Linked DNA regions of Homo sapiens. The protein of the gene in region 1 purifies or fractionates together with the protein of each later gene. This does not show direct contact. Each region holds a gene or a part of one and is shown on either strand. Other genes may lie near its edges.

Region 1 (3,656 bases):
CGTGGAGTGGAGGGCTGCGGCGGCACTGGTCAGGGTGGGATGGGGTTGGGGCCTTGGGAGTCAGGGGCCAGTGTGACGCCGTGTGTGCTGCTCTCCCTAAGGGCTGGAAGGCATCCTCCCAGCAGACACAGGGTCCGTGTTCACTTTGTTAGAGCGAAGAAAAAAGACAACTCCCGCTGGAGAAAGACAGCCCTTCTTTTCCCACCGGCACACCCCACCTGTCCCCCACACAGGCAGCTCTCTCTCCTGGATGCCTCCCAAGGCCGGCAGTGGGAGTCACTGAGGACCACAGGGTTGATCCCCTTGGACACAAGTGAGAGGGAGCCCAGTGGCCTCCAACTAGGGTCCTGGGAGGCTTCTACCAACCACACCCAGCTTCACGTCCCTCCACACCAGGAGCCATGCCAGGCTCAGTCACCCACGTTCTGGCCCCTTCTGCCTTCTGGTGGGGTCTCCCCCTGTACTGCCCACTGTTTGAAGGGGAGGAGACCTGGGTCCCCAGCAGCAAGGAGCCCTTTGCTGCCAACAGCTCCCCCCACCCACAGATACTTAGAGGGGCCCCAGATTGTCAAAAAGACACGCGCACTGGCCTTTCCTGACCTCATGGAGCAACCCTGCCAAAGGCCGCTGGGCCTGCGAGTCTCTCAGGCCCGCACAGACCAGACGGCACCTGGCCCAACCTGCCAGACGCCCTGCTACGCCCAGACACCGAGGCCTGCCCTCATCAAGGCGAGCTGGGAAGGAGTGGGAGCAAACACACACAGACCATCAGGGGAGCCCGGGGGAGGGCGGGATAGGTTAAGCGGCAGATTAATGCATCTCTACTCAGACCGAGGGAAGCAGAAGTGGGGAGGGGGCGGGAGGAGGGTGCCTGGTCTCCGATGCATCCAATGCATCCGTCATCCTCATGGTCAAACACAGCCAGCCAGGATTCTAACTAGAAGCCGAGCCCCGGAGCCTCGGAGGGAATGAAGCATTTTGCATGATGGGTGTGGGGGAGGTCATGACACCCAGGGGCGGCGGGCGGCACTTACGTCACTCATAAGCCCCTTAAACACCACCAGCTCGGCCTTGAGCCGCTCGATCTTCTCATTCATCTCCTCCTGGATGGCATCAGCCTCCTGTGCTGCCTGCGGGGACGGAGATGGGGAGGCTTCAGAGGGGCCGGGTCCTCTGGGGATAGGAGGGTCTGGACACCTGAGTCCAGAGCCCTAGGCACCCGATGTCCACCCCAGCTGGGCACCTGCAGCCAGGGAAGGGGCACCAAGGACCTCATCCCAGCCTGACTTCCCACTGAACACTGTTGACTGCTTAAAACACTTTTCAAAGCGTTATCTATTACGTGGGAAAATCCATGGAAGGTATTAAAAGAGCAGGTTAATTAACAAGCAATCCTATTACGTTAAAAATATGAGATCAATCCGTGTGAAACTGCCAGTATTGGGCCATCTCTGCTTTCAAAAATGACAATGTCATGTGTGTCGACCTAACATGCGTCTGAAGAGCGTGGGTGTGTGTCCACACAGACAAGATCGGAAGGTCACACGCCAGTTTTTCAACTGTGGAAGGAGGAACTGGAAATAATTTTTATTTTTGGGCTTTTCTATAGTTTCCACATATTTGACGATGAACCCGTTAAATTTATAAAGAAAAAAGCCCTTTCATTATAAAAGAAAGGGAGATATTCAACCTTTTCCTTCTACGCATTGACAATTATCTTAATCTGTCTCTAACTGTCTTAGACGACAAATGCTTTCAGTATCAGAACGCAATTTCTAGACATTTTTGGAAGAACTTTTCATGCCTTCTCATGGGGTTGCTACTCTTGCTCCCACTTGTCAGAGAGGAAAATAGAGGCTGAGAAGATGAAGTTTGCTGCCCAGGTTACACCGCAGGTGGGGGAGTTGCAGAGCCCAGAATGCAGAGATTCCAGCTAGAGCAGCAAGGGGAATGTTCCCAAATGCCCACCACAGAGAGCCTGCTCAGGCTGGGAGCCCACCTGCGACGTGCCCACCTGCCCTCTCCAAGGCCTTCAGCCCCAACCGAGGGCACCCTTCTTGCTTGGGGGCTTACAAACCACCTAGTCCAAGCCTCAGGTGGGGAGACAGTGACGGGTGAGAAGGGTCGCTGGTCCCAGGTCATACAGCAGCTGGGACTTGCACCCCGGGACCTGGACCCAGGCTTCTCAACCCCTGCATCAGAGCTCTTGTGCAACACTGTGCTGGTCCATTCCTAGCTTCCAAGCAGAGGAAGTGGAAGGGATCTCTTGGCTCCATAAAGGAGAGACTGAGGTGGTAGGAGGTAACAGAGTAGGGGCTGTGCAAGAATTTCCTGGCTTTGCCGCATGAAGACTGTGCCCCTTGGCCACATGGCTCTCTGGCGTGCCTCTCCTGGTCGGGATATCGGAGGGCTCTTACCTCCTGCAGCGTGTCCACCATGGTCTGAAGGTTCATGCGCTTGGCGAGCTCCTCCTCCCACCTGCAAAAGCCAAGAGGAACAGGTGGTCAGAAGGTGAGTTCCCTGTGCCAGTCCAGCCCTCAGACACAACCCCAACACCCACCCAGGGACTATCTTGAGCTGGGCAAGGAAGGTGCATTGGGGCATCCATCCCTGCCTGCCCTCTGGGAGCTCCCAGCCTAGGGGAGGTGGTGTGAGAGGACAGCCAGGCTGACATATAACCAGAGTATCAGGTGGTGGTGACAAGTGCCACGTTAAGGTATGAGCCCAGCACTTCGTGAAGACAGAGGTGGGAGGGACCACCACCCTGCCTGCATGCAAACTGTAAAGTGCTGTGCAAGCACTGCTGCTCCTGTTGTTGCTGCAAGATGCAGTAGCAAAGCCAGTCCTTAGGAGCCAGGCTGCAGCCAGCTCCACTCTCAGGCTGTTCTTTGCACCCACAAGAAACAAACTTTTATTGTGCTAAGCATTGCGATGCCCGACAGCCTACCCAAACCAACACAGATCTCTCCTACGTAGGTGTTATCATTCCATTTTACAGAAGTGGAAACTGAGGCTCGGAGAGGTTAAATAAACATCTAACCCAAAGACACACAGCGAGTCAGCAGGTGGGGCTGTTTTATTACATTGAAACAAAACTCAATAAATACAGTTCCCACTGATTTAGCGTTTACTATGTGCCAAGCCCTGTTGTTCCAAGGGCTTCCACACCACTACTTTGACACGAGTACTGCCCGAAGCTGAATAGGAAACGCGGGCGGGAGGGGAGAAGGCAAAGGAGGGTTCAGTGGACCCCCGCCCTTAACTGCAGGAAGGGGTGGGAGCAGTTCCCTGGGACTGGATGATATTACCAATTCCAGAACCACCTTCACTGGGACTTACTTTGTACCAGGCACTGTTCTACATGAAGTTAATTCAATCCTCGTAACAACCTATGACGTAGGCACCGTCATTATCCCCAGGTGCAGAAAGCAAGGCCCAGAGGCACAAGCTGAACCCAAGGCCAGGGTGAGATAGTGTGGAACTAGGACTGAAACCCAGGTGGGGACGCTCCAGACTGGTTGCTCAGAATCCCCTTGCGGAGCTCCTCATAGACCCAGGAACTGTCAAAGCCTAAAGGCCCTAACCCAGCTCCTCCAACAGAGTTCCTCCCTCCCTGGAGGAAGCTGGGGGCAGGTTCTTTCCCTCCTCGGATGTCT
Region 2 (3,270 bases), about 230 Mb from region 1:
CTCTTGCTTGAACTTTTCGTAGCATTCCTACGGTTTCTTTCTAATCTGTCTTCCCACTGCTGTCCAAGAGATCTTTCTAAGACACAAAATCTGACCTTGTCATTGCCTTCTTTATAAAATGTTCCTGGCCCACTGCTTTGGCAGTGATTCTTAACTGAGATTTCATATATCAGAATCATGGCCGGGCGCAGTGGCTCACACCTGTAATCCCAGCACTTTGGGAGGCTGAGGGAGGTGGATCACTTAAGGTCAGGAGTTCAAGACCAGCCTGGCCAACAGGTGAAACTTCATCTCTACTAAAAATACAGAAATTAGCTGGACATGGTGGTGCACGCCTGTAGTCCCAGCTACTCAGGAGGCTGAGGCAGGAGAATTGCTTGAACTCAGGAGGTGGAGCTTGCAGTGAGCTGAGATCACACCACTGCACTCCAGCCTGGGCAACACAGCGAGATTCCTTCTCCAAAAAAAAAAAAAAAAAAAAAGAATCACCTAGGAAGCTTTTTTCACTGACACATGCCCTCATCTTGCTTCTGGACGTTCTGATTCAGTAGGTCTGGAGTGGGGCCTGAAAGCATAGAGCAGTGGTTCCCAACTTTGGAAGAGAACCCAAAACAGATGACCAGAGACTCTGGTTCGGTTGGTCTGGAATGCAGCCTGGGCACTGGGGCTCTCTAAATCTGCCCAGTGATGCTAATGTGCTGCCAGGGTTGAGAATCACCACTGCGGAGGAAGGAAGAAGGTTCCAGATTTGAGTGGTTTTGGTACCCACCCCTGGAGCACAAATGGCCGAAAGTCCATCTTCAGAGATGTGAGGCCATCCTAGACCCTTCATGATCTAGTTCTGGATAGCACATAGGATTCATTTTTCATCCAACTTTGATTAATTGATAGTAGCCACCCAGAGACTATGCTGGGTCGGACAATGTGTGTAGCCTGAGAGAGGATTAGAACCCATTAGTGTGGGCGCCATAGCAGGAGATGGGACAGGTGTGGCATGTGTGTCTGACCTTGTCTGTACCTCTTGAATTGTATGTTCTGGAAAGGCTATGCTACTGCATCCCTTCTTCCCTTTAAATAATGGGTTCTCCTTTCTGGAATCCATCTACTTTTGGGGTTTTAAAACAACCATTAAAATGTGTTTGTGTGTGTGTATATATACAGTTCAGAACCATTGCCCTCTGCCCTGGTAGATTAATAACACCCTCCTCTGAGTTATGCCTGTATGTTTTAGTTCATGTCACATTGTTATTTAATCTGTTTATCTCTCTCTCCCCCCCTTTCCTCCTACTAAACTGTAAGCTCCAGCAAAGGCAGTAATTATGTCTCAGGGCCTCAATGGTATCTGACCCTTAGTTGATACTTCATAAAAATGTGTTGATCATGATTGAATTCTTTATCACCTCATTCCTAAATTTAGTGATTGTGAAAGATGCTAGGATAAGTCCTCAAGAATTTAGTTTTTTGAGTCGAATTTTTACATCTTTAAGTGGAACAATTATATACCTATACTCCAGGCCCATATTTCCATTACTTGCTGGCTATTTTTGTCTTGTCGCCTCAAATAGGTATCTAAAACCAGATTTCTATATTCTGCCCCCCGATAAAAACTATCTCCAGATCATCTTTATTTCCTCCCTATTTCTTACCACTCCCCTTCCCCCCAACATCACGCCAGTCTTCAAAACTGACAGCTTCAAAGAATTAGTTTTCGCTCCCTGCTTAAATGATGACGGGATATTCTGGCAGATAAAATAATGTTTTCATCTATTGACAATGTCTCACTTGAAATAGAATAGTCGGTTTTACTATGTTCCAGGAGGAAATGACGTATTTATGAAATGCGCCCTTTGCCTTCTCCTTCACAGATTGATGCTGCCTCATTCACGCTGACATTCTTTGGTCAAGGATACAGCCAAGGCACTGGTACAGATAAGAACAAACCAAATATCAAAATTTGTACTCAGGTGAAAGGACCAGGTATTTCACATATCACTTAAGAATGCTTGGGAATTTTATACTCTTAAGCTATAAAGTACAATGCCATTACAATATATTCTTTTTAAAGCTTAATTGTTTTAGAAATACATTTGTACAAATTAAGTAACTTAAAATTATTCTGTCAAAGGAAGATTGAAATTATTGATATAATCCAATTTTATTAGTGCATCCCTCCCTCTGGCTGTTTTTGGAGTATGATTCAGTAATTCAGAATGGCAAATTTTAATTAGTATTAATAGGAAAAGGGATTGGTTGATATTCACCTGTTTGAATCTCATATGCAAGTAGTGTAATTATAATGTCAGTCAAATCTGTGCTCTAGGATTTCTTTAGAGTCTCTGAACACCCTGACATTGTTTGTAAAATATGTATGCACACGTGCACTTTTCAAGGGAAGGGAATGGCTTCTGATAGGTTGTTAAAAGAATGTTGCCCAAAACGTTCAAGAACTTTTGCTGTACATTTTACAGAACTATGCAGAGACAGACAGGTCCACTTGTGAACTGTGGTATAATTACTGTCAGAGACAGACAGGTCCACTTGTGAACTGTGGTATAATTACTGTCAGAGACAGACAGGTCCACTTGTGAACTGTAGTATAATTACTGTCAGAGACAGACAGGTCCACTTGTGAACTGTGGTATAATTACTGTCAGAGACAGACAGGTCCACTTGTGAACTGTGGTATAATTACTGTCAGAGACAGACAGGTCCACTTGTGAACTGTGGTATAATTACTGTCAGAGACAGACAGGTCCACTTGTGAACTGTGGTATAATTACTGTCAGAGACAGACAGGTCCACTTGTGAACTGTGGTATAATTACTGTCAGAGACAGACAGGTCCACTTGTGAACTGTAGTATAATTACTGTCAGCCCTTTTAGGTCACAGGCTATAATTTTTTATTGAGACGGGGTCTCACTATGTTGCCTAGGCTGGGCTCAAGCAGTCCTCCTGCCTCAGCCTTCTAAAGGGTTGGGATTACAGGCATGAATTGCCATGCCTGGCCCACGGGGGATTTTAATCAAGCCAGATGATAGTATGTTTCCATCTTGCCCTTTTCTGAAATTCCCACCTGACTTTTTAAGGTAAGTTGACTGTATTTTCATTATTTGACAGGATTATAAATGCTAATGTTCCGTTTGTTTATAAACATTTTTTTAACTTATGTTTAGTCGTTATTCTTTAAGAAAAAATTGAGAGGATTTTTTTGTTGTTTTTAAGTGAAGTGTGTGAATACAGATAGGGATCGGCTCAGTGTACAATAGAGA
Region 3 (3,656 bases), on another chromosome or scaffold:
ACACACACGCACACACCAAACATGAGGAGTGACAAGTGTTATAGTTTGAAGTAGGCATAATTAAGCATGACAAGAAAATCAAAAACATAAAATACAAATCTGAATGCATAAAAATTAAAACTTTATATTACAAGAAAGCAGAGTGGGGAACACCGTTAAGTTAAAATACAAGTGATGAACTGGAGAAAAATAATTATAGCCTATGTGCAAAGGGTTGATAGACATGTGCTAAGGTGTTTTAGAGCTTGTGCTCTAGAGTAACACTGCCTGACCTACCAATCACAAGATGTGACATTGAAAAAGTCATGTAACTATTCTGTGCCTCAGTTTCCTCACTTTAAAAGATGGTAATAAGACTCCCTGTTTCATGGTGTTATTATTGGGCATTTAACCCATATGTAAAAGCATCTAGTACCGTGTTTGGCATGTAATAGTAATGATAATAACTGCTAAAATATACCAGGGGTTAATATGTATTATACACTGTGCAAGCCTTTTAAATACATTGTCTCATTTAATGCTCACAGCAACCCTTCCAATGAGGAAGGTGCTGTTATTCTCATTTTACAGATGGGTACTCCGAGATTTAGAGAGGTTATGTAACTTGACCAACAGCTAGTAAGTCATGGAGGTGGGATTTGAGCAAAGATGTGATTCCAGACCCATCCTCTTAACATTTACACCATGCTGTTGTGACTCTTAAGACAACTTAGTTCCCTTTTCCTTGAGTCTTGGGAGTATTTAATCTTGAGAGTTAATTGGACTTTTAACACCCTCTCAGTAGGTATATGATATAAGCTCTTCAAATGAATCTGGACACTAGTATATCCATGAAGTTGCCATCTCATGTATATTTTTACAGAACATAGCCTTTCTTTGATGCTTGACCAAAGATTACTGGAACAGGATTCTAAGTAGGCTTTTAACACTGTATGTTTGATTCTTGAACTGACTTCGATGGTGTGCCCCACTGTTTGAGCCCAAGGTTACTTTATGGGATAGTGTAGACTGTTATTTTCAGTTCTTCCTTTGGCAGTTAGGATCAGTTCCCATCTCATCAGTTTCTCCTTTTACCTAGGACCAATTATTACTCCCATTAACTGGCCTCAGACTTTTCCTAGTAGTCTGCAAACTCTGCAGGCAGCATTTAAATCCTTTTAGCTTTCCACACCAAGCACAGTGCCTGAATTCTTACCTTGAATGTTGTAGGAGTTTAACAAATGGCTTATTAATTTAATTAATTATAAATGAGACTTCTAGATAACTTGTGTCTTATGAGCTTCTAATTGTTTCTTCTGCAGCAGTAACTGGAAAATGGAATTTCCCAAAAGCAATGCTTTATATTAGTTAATGTGTTAGAGAGGGACTTTGTCATGATGATATAAAATTTTGATTAAATGAAAAGCAGTTTATTTCTCTTGTACAAGTGACCCACATAAAGTACCATTTATGAAATGGAAAAACAATTGGGAAGAAAAATTTTCTCAAAGTATTATAACCAAGGCACAGTATAGTTTTAAAATGATTTATACTTTATATATAGGGCTTGCTCAGTTAATGTATCAAGTTATTAGGCATTAAGAAATGTTGAGTGAGGAATGAGGTTATGAAATAGATATGCAAACATGGATGTAGAAAGAAACTGTATAGTTTGAATAAGTTAATGCTGCTCTGCCAAACCTAATGTTCTCTTTTTGCCCTTTATTCACTTAGCAACTGGGCCATTTCCCCTAGTATATTAATTATGGCCTACGAGTGAGTGAAAATTTTTGAGCTCCTATGTTAAATCATTTTAGAACATTGGGAGTGGGAGTTAGCAAATCGTTGCTTAAGGGAACCAAATAATAAGCTAGTAAAGGTAAATGCAACTTACTAAAGGGCCCAACATAAAAACAAATAGCTTATGCAGTGGCATATCTTAATGCAGTGTTTGATCTTTATGTACCCTGCTGCCTCAGATTCTAGGTCTAGTTCAAATGGCCACTGCAAACCCATCTGCCTTTATGAAAAATGCCCTTCCTTCAGTAAAACATTTTGAGTATGTTATTCACAACTTGAACAATCCTACATCCAGGCCTGAAGAAAGTGGTAGTATGGACGGGTGTGCGCCCTTGTCTTGTTTGGTGATTCTGAACTTCAATCTTGTAAGGAGGGAAAGAAAGAGGGGTTGGAAATGAGGGTGGAAATGAGGGTTGGAGAGCACTGGCTTTGGGATTTAATCAACAGCATCTAGCTTCAGTTCACCCAAATGGTACTCCATAAATCAAACTTATTTTTATATATTTTTTATTTTTTTATCTTTAGTTATTATGAACACATAGTGCATATTTATGGGGTGTATGTGATATTTTGATACAAGGCATACAATGCGTAATGATCAGATCAGGGTAATTGGGCTATCAATCACCTCAAGCATTTATCATTTCTTTGTGTTAAGAACATTCCCGTTCCACATTTTTAGGTATTTTGAAATATATAATACATTACCGTTAATTATAGTTGCCCTATTGTGCTACCGAACACTAGGTCTTATTTTTTCTATATAACTAATGCAGTTTTAAATAACTATATTTTCATACCCAATAACCATTCACTTTTTATCCCTCCTCCCCGCTACCATTCTCAATCTCTGGTAACCATCATTCTACTCTCTACCTCCATGAAATCTACTTATTTTTACCTCCCACATATGAGTGAGAACATGTGATATTTGTCTTACTGTTCCTGGCATATTTCATTTAACATAATGACCTCCAATTCCATCCATGTTGCTACAAATGACAAAATTTCATTCTTTTTATGGCTAAATAATATCCCATTGTGTATATATACCTTGTTTTCTTTATCCATTCATCCCTTGATCAACACTTAGGTTGATTCCCTATCTCGGCTATTGTGGATAGTGCTGCAGTAAACATGCGAATGCAGATTTCTCTTTAACATACTGATTTCCTTCCTTTTGGGTATATGCTCCGCAGCAGCATTGCTAGATTATATGATAGATTTTTAGTTTTTTGAGGAACCTCCAAAGTGTTCTCCATAGTGACTGTATTAATTTACTTTCCCACCAACACTATACAAGTGTTCCCCTTTCTCCATATCCTTGCCAGCATTTGTTATTGCCTGTCTTTTTGATAAAACCATTTTAACTGAGGTAAAATGGTATCTTGTGGTTTTGGTTCGCATTTCTCTGGTGATTAGTAATGATTAGTGATCATTTTTTCGTATAATTGCTGGCCATTTGTATGACTTGTTTTGAGAAATGTCTCTTTTTGATCTTTTGCCTATTTTTTAATTAGATCATTTGGGTTTTTTTCCTACTGAGTTGTTTGAACTTCTTATATATTCTGATTGTTAATCCCCTTTCAGATGGGTAGTTTGCAAATATTTTCTCCCATTCTGTGGGTTGTCTCTTCATTTTGTTGATTGCTTCCTTTTCTGTGCAGAAGCTTTTTAGCTTGACATGATCCCATTTGTCCATTTTTGCTTTGTCTATCTGTGCTTTTGAGGTCTTACTTAAGAAATCTTTGCCCAGACCAATGTTCTGGAGTGTTTCCCCAGTGTTTTCATGTCATAGATTGAAGTGTTTAATCCATATTTATTTGATTTTTGTGTATGGTAAGAGATAGGCATCTAGTTTCATTCTTCTACATATG

The links.
Region 2: the proteins of IFFO2 (region 1) and SCCPDH purify together in Homo sapiens (co-immunoprecipitation; one large-scale study listed by IntAct). This does not show direct contact.
Region 3: the proteins of IFFO2 (region 1) and IFT57 purify together in Homo sapiens (co-immunoprecipitation; one large-scale study listed by IntAct). This does not show direct contact.

The regions. Positions count from the first base shown.
Region 1 is NC_000001.11:18,918,644-18,922,299, forward strand, and holds part of IFFO2 (intermediate filament family orphan 2), read right to left. Parts: intron 2,479-3,656; coding exon 2,418-2,478; intron 1,131-2,417; coding exon 1,035-1,130; intron 1-1,034.
Region 2 is NC_000001.11:246,762,381-246,765,650, forward strand, and holds part of SCCPDH (saccharopine dehydrogenase-like oxidoreductase), read left to right. Parts: intron 1-1,865; coding exon 1,866-1,977; intron 1,978-3,270.
Region 3 is NC_000003.12:108,194,784-108,198,439, reverse strand, and holds part of IFT57 (intraflagellar transport protein 57 homolog), read left to right. Parts: intron 1-3,656. UniProt on the Homo sapiens protein: Required for the formation of cilia. Plays an indirect role in sonic hedgehog signaling, cilia being required for all activity of the hedgehog pathway.